2 separate regions of the Homo sapiens genome follow, and region 1 is linked to region 2. Evidence: fine-mapped expression QTL. A gene starts in region 2. The other region holds a variant in brackets. All regions are shown on one strand. Distances are between the middles of the regions. Region 1 overlaps GRB2 (growth factor receptor bound protein 2). Region 2 holds the start of NT5C (5', 3'-nucleotidase, cytosolic).

Region 1 (2,906 bases), 250 kb after region 2:
GGTGGCTCACGCCTGTAATCCCAGCATTTTGGGAGGCTGAGGCAGGCGGATCACAAGGTCAGGAGTTCGAGACCAGCCCGGCCAATATGGTGAAAGCCCGTCTCTACTAAAAATACAAAAATTAGCTGGGTGTGGTGGCACGCTCCTGTAGTCCCAGCTACTCAAGAGGCTGAGGCAGAAGATTCGCTTGAACCCAGGAGGCAGAGGTTGCAGTCAGCCAAGACAGCACCACTACACTACACTGCACTACAGCCTGGGTGACAGAGCGAGACTCCTTCCCAAAAAGAAAACAACAACAACAAAAAACACCAACATATTGGCTCTTTTAGTCTTCACTATGACCCCAGGAAGGTAGGAAACTATTGTTCCCATTTTACAGATGTCAGAACCAAAACACAAAGCCATCCCGTAAATTGCCCAAGATCGCAATGCCCGATCTGTCTGTGACAGAGCTAGGATTCCAAGCAGGCAGGTCTCGCCTAGAGCCAGTATTCTTTACAATACTTCAGATGTCTCTCATTCCACATCCAGAAGGAGGTAAAATTAAGGGAGTAGCTGCCAAAAGGACGAAGGTTTTCCTCAAAAAGTCATTTTGGGTCAGTTTTTCAAATGTCTCAAAGTTTTATGATCCTGAGCACAGTCACAGTGAACTTCAGCCTAAGATTTAAAATCAGGTTAAATCTCAACGCTTAAGAAACAAAACCACTCCTCAGCAGAGCACTTCACCTTCCTAGAATATCCTTCAAGGTAAACTAGATGCAGAATGTAAACTGCTTACTATCTGAATGTAACTTTTTTCTTTTAATAAAACTGATAGCTGGGCATGGTGGCTCACCCCTGTAATCCCAGCACTTTGGGAGGCCAAGGCGGGTGGATCGCCTGAGGTCGGGAGTTTGAGACCAGCCTGGCCGACATGGTGAAACCCTGTCTCTACTAAAAATACAAAAAATAAGCCGGGCGTGGTGGCACATGCCTATAATCCCAGCTACTCAAGAGGCTAAGGCAGGAGAATCGCTTGAACCCGGGAGGTGGAGGTTGCAGTGAGGTGAGATCACACCACTGTACTCCAGCCTGGGCAACAGAGACTCTTGTCTCAAAATAACATAACATAACATAAAATAAAATAAATAATAAAACTGATACATATGGTAACTAATTCAAGAGTATGAAGAGTAAAAGTCACCTGAAATTCAGTTACTTGGAGACAACAATTACTCCTTGGGAGACCATTCAGAAAGAGATCTATGTATATGATAAAAAAAGAGGAAAAGACAGCAATTTTTCCTAAATGGCCTCTCTCTCTAGTTTGACCTCATTTGTGTATAGAAAGGCTTTATTTACAGAGGCCGGGCGCGGTAGCTCATGTCGGTAATCCCAGCACTTTGGGAGGCAGGCGGATCGCTTGAGCCCAGGAGTTCGAGACCAGCGTGGGCAACAGTGAGACCTCCTGGCTCTACCAAAAAAAAAAAAAAAAAAAAAAAAAA[A/AGC]AAGCAAACAAACAAACAAACAAAAAAACCCTTAAATTATCCAGGTGTGGTAGTGCACAGCTGTAGTCCCACCTATTCAGGAGGCTGAAGTAGGAGGATTCCTTGAGACTGAGAGGTCAAGGTTGCAATGAGTCAAGATCATGCCACCGCATCCCAGCCTGGGTGACAGAGCAAGACCCTGTTTCAAAAATGAAAATAAGGCTGACCGTGGTGGCTCACTTCTATAATCCCAACACTTTGGGAGGCTGAGGCAGGCATATTACCTGCGTTCAGGATTTTGAGACCAGCCCGGCCAACATGGTGAAACACTGTCTCTACTAAAAATACAAAAATTAGCTGGGCATGGTGGTAGATGCTTGTAATCCCAGCTACTCAGGAGGCTGAGGCAGGAGAATCACTTGAACCACGGAAGTGGAGGTTGCAGTGAGCTGAGATTGTGCCATTGCACTCCAGCCTGAGCAACAAGAGTGAAACTCCATCTCGAAAATAAAAAATAAAAATAAAAAAAGGGAAAAGAACAAAAGAACATAAAATCAGGACTAAACCAGATTGGATCTGAATCCTAACTTGTGAATTTGGGCAAATTAAGCCTCAGATTTTTTGTCAGTAAAATGGGGATAACAGCATCTGCCTTTACAAGATTTGCGTGAGATTAAAAGAGAAGGGAAGTTGAATACTTAGCTTAGAGCAAAGGCATGCTAAGTATTTAATATGTTAGTTATATTATTACTTATTAAAACAGGATCCATTTAAACGTTTCTCTGTGCAAGTGTAGGCATTATTCTGTGTTGATACAGATCAACGTTAACACCTTCATTGCCACTTAATAGGTGCCATAATCTACCTCTGTAAACCCCACTAATTGGTTTTGCTTTTTGGCTTGTATGGCAATTTCATGAACTGGAAGGTGCATGCCACTTTTATGTGTTTTAACATCTCTAAAATGCATCTTACAATTGACAGTATTGGCAGAAAAAAATTTTTCTAGGTGGTATATACATAATTGAAATAAACATCCTTATGTCTACATCTTTAAAAAACTTGTTTATGAGTTTCTTAGAATAAATTCTTTTTTTTTTTGGAGACGGAGTCTCACTCTGTCGCCCAGGCTGGAGTGCAGTGGCATGATCTCGGCTCACTGCAACCTCTGCCTCCCGAGTTCAAGCGATTCTCATGCCTCAGCCTCCTGAGTAGCTGGGACTAGAGGCACACACCACCACGCCCAGCTAATTTGTGTATTTTTAGTAGAAACGGGATTTCACCATGTTGGCCGGGCTGGTCGCAAACTCTGACCTCAAGTGATCTACCCGCTTTGGCCTCCCAAAGTGCTGGGATTATAGGCATGAGCCACTGCGCTTGGCCTTAGAACAAATTCTTAAAATGTTACTTGCTGGATCATTTTATGTTCTGATACCTATTACC
Region 2 (2,906 bases):
GCCTGTCCCTTTATGTTCCCAAATAAAGGGTCCTAGAAGACTAGAAAGCCAAGGTCTTTTATTAAAGGTCCCGACTGGTTTTCCCACTGTATTTCCATGCCAGCCAGGGTCCAGGGACAGCCTCTCGGGAGGTACCGGGTGGCTGGGCCTGGGGCCCGGTAGCACAGCGCTTAACGGTATCTGCCTGCTCCACTCCACGGGGCCAGAGGCACCAGCACGATGCCGCCCCGACTCGGCTCTGCGGTGGCCCCTGTGGGCCTGCCCTTCCTTTAGCTCCAGCTGCTGCCCGCGGCATCCCCGCTCATTCCCGCTGCGCAGCTCCGCGCTTGCTATCTAAGATCTCCCTCCAGTTGTCACTCCAGGAGAGCAGCCGTCTCCTTGTCGGGGGCAGGACCAGGTGCCGATTGTGGCAGCAGGTGAACAAGATGTGCTCCCAGCTTGGGGTCTCCTCCTGGCCTAGGACAGTGAAAGACAGCGCGCTGCCATCTGTCATGGGTATTATTACTCCCTCTCCCTAATCCGGGCAGGCCAGAGGCCTGGAGGCTGCCAAGGATAACGGGTCCAACCTCGAACTGTGTCCTTGTCATCAATGAGCAGGTCCCCCAAGACCACCGTCTTGTCCCTTGTCAGGATAATTCGTTCTACGAACTGGGGCCCCAGGTGCTGCTCCACCCAGCGGTACTGTGTAGAAAACACAGTCTGTGAGTAGGGCCTGATGGAAGCCGGAATTCAGGGATAGGGACTTGGCTCTAAGCCCTTGAGAGCCCCCCACCCCCACCTTCTGGGTTTCTGGTGGTTTCTTTTTAAAATCAGGATTTAGGCAGCTCCACGTGCGGAGTAGGGGCGGGGCAGCCACACCTTCTCACCCACACAGTGGTGGTACTTCAGCAGGGGGCTGGTGCAGATGAAGACCTGCGTGCTGCGGAGAAGGACGCGGTTACCGCCGGGAGCCAGGAGCCCGCCCAGGACTCCGCCCGCCCCCCTCTCTCCTTACTCCGGTAGGTCGTTCATCTCCCGCACAGCGTCCAAGGCTCCCGGGATGGGCTCCAGGTCCAGGAAAAAGCCCGGGGCTTCGTACACACTGGCCACTTTATCCTGAAAGACAAGAGTTCTGGGTCCCGGCTTCCCGTTCCCGCGAGGACCCGCAGGGAGGCTCCTGGGGGCTCCGGGCCCGAGCTCAGAGGGGCGGAGGGGGCGTCGGTCAGGGGCACGCGCCCAAAGGCTCCTCCCCAGGGTGCGCTGCCCGCGGGTTCCAGGGTGAGAGCTCTGCGCCCTTCACAGAGAAGGGGGAGACCCCCGGAACGGAGCGAGCGGGCCCTGCCCGGGTGGGGACCCTGCGCCCCCTACCGCCAGGTCGGGCCGCAGGGCGCGGTACTGCTCGCGGGCCAGGAAGCCGCGGCGTTGCTCCAGCGGCACGTGCGGCTCCTCAGGGAAGCGGCGGCGGAAGCCCCGCAGGAGGCCGGCCTCGAAGTCGGCCAGGACGCCGTCCATGTCCACCAGCACGCGCACGCTCCGCGCCATCGCCGCCGGGCCGGAGCTGCGAGCTCTCGGGGTCTGGGGGGCGCGGGCTCGGCCGGAAGCGGAGGGAGCGCTGCTTCCGGAGTCCGCCGGGCTGATTTGCATAGAGTGTCCGGGCCGCCCCGCCCAGGTCGTAAACCAGTGCCGACGGCCCTGCGGTTGCGCGAGGCCATCCTAGGGTTCGGGTGCAGGGACGGCTTTGGGGGGCACTTTTCTGACCCTGCGCTTCTTCGGGACCCAGCCTTTGTCCCCATCAGCCGCCTCCCACTTTACGGCAGACGTACCCCCGTTCACCCCACGTTACTAGTAGGGGACCGACCTTCCGGGGGCCCAACAAAGGGATGCTCTGAAATACTGGGAAGCATCTAACGAGGAGTCAAGGGTCCTAAACCCGTGGGGCTAGCTCCACATTTTTTTTCTTTTTTTCTTTTTTTTTTTTTTTATTTTGAGACGGAGTCTGGCTCTGTCGCCCAGGCTGCGGCGCAGTGGCGGCGCGATCTCGGCTCACTGCAGCCTCCGCTTCCCGGGTTCAACCGATTCTCTTGCTTCAGCCTCCCGAGTAGCTGGGATTACAGGCACCCGCCACCACGCCTGGCTAATTTTTGTAGTTTTAGTAGAGACGGGGTTTCGCCATGTTGGTCAGGCTGGTTTCAAACTCCTGACCTCAAGTGATCTGCCTGCCTTGGCCTCCCAAAGTGTTGGGATTATAGGCTTGAGCCACCGCACCTGGCCAAAGTCTTATTACCGCAGTACCGTGGTCTCAGTGGATTGCTTTCGTCTGTGCAGTGGAGCAGGAACAATCCCTCGAGGACTACAAAGTGAAATGAATCTGTTAACTGGTTTGTGTAAGTCTAGCTCGTTAAGAGACTAATTCACACTAGAGTTGGCTTGAAACATGGGAGCTTCAAGTGTGGTTTCCCCCGGAAAGATGATTTTGATCAAGCACAGGTAATCAGGACTGTCCTCAGGACTTTATGTGGAACTGACATCGCTTACCTACTCCCGTCTAGAAAATGCTGAACAGGGCCAGGTGCGGTGGCTCACGCCTATAATCCCAGCACTTTGGGAGGCCGTGGCGGGCGGATCATCTGAGGTCGGGAGTTCAAGACCAGCCTGACCAACATGGAGAAATCCTGTCGCTACTAAAAATACAAAATTAGCGTGGTGGCACATGCTTGTAATCCCAGCTACCCGGGAGGCTGAGGCAGGAGAATCTCTTGAATCCAGGAGGCAGAGGTTGCGGTGAGCCGAGATCATGCCATTGCCCTCCAGCCTGGGCAGCAAGAACAAAACTCCTTCTCAAAAAAAAAAAAAAAAAAAAAGAACATGCTGAACTGTGATACATTTTGTTGACTCTTCTTTTTGTGGATGTCATGAAACTTCCTGAC

What was found.
Region 1: its variant is fine-mapped to the expression of NT5C in whole blood (INTERVAL, PIP above 0.99).

What each region holds. Positions count from the first base shown.
Region 1 is chr17:75,383,572-75,386,477 of GRCh38, forward strand. All of the region lies in intron 2 of GRB2 (growth factor receptor bound protein 2), which reads right to left. Among named protein-coding and RNA genes, the nearest start is that of GRB2, 21 kb to the right of the region's middle. RefSeq lists a silencer at 1,164-1,364. The variant A/AGC (reference allele first, on the strand shown) is at 1,485.
Region 2 is chr17:75,130,187-75,133,092 of GRCh38, forward strand. It overlaps NT5C (5', 3'-nucleotidase, cytosolic), which reads right to left and starts at 1,556. Exons shown (of 5, transcript NM_014595.3): 1 at 1,348-1,556; 2 at 995-1,095; 3 at 859-919; 4 at 567-681; 5 at 42-456. The coding sequence starts at 1,521. The coding sequence ends at 302. It overlaps ARMC7 (armadillo repeat containing 7), which reads left to right. Exons shown (of 3, transcript NM_024585.4): 3 at 1-86. RefSeq lists an enhancer at 449-538 and silencers at 575-779, 1,149-1,718.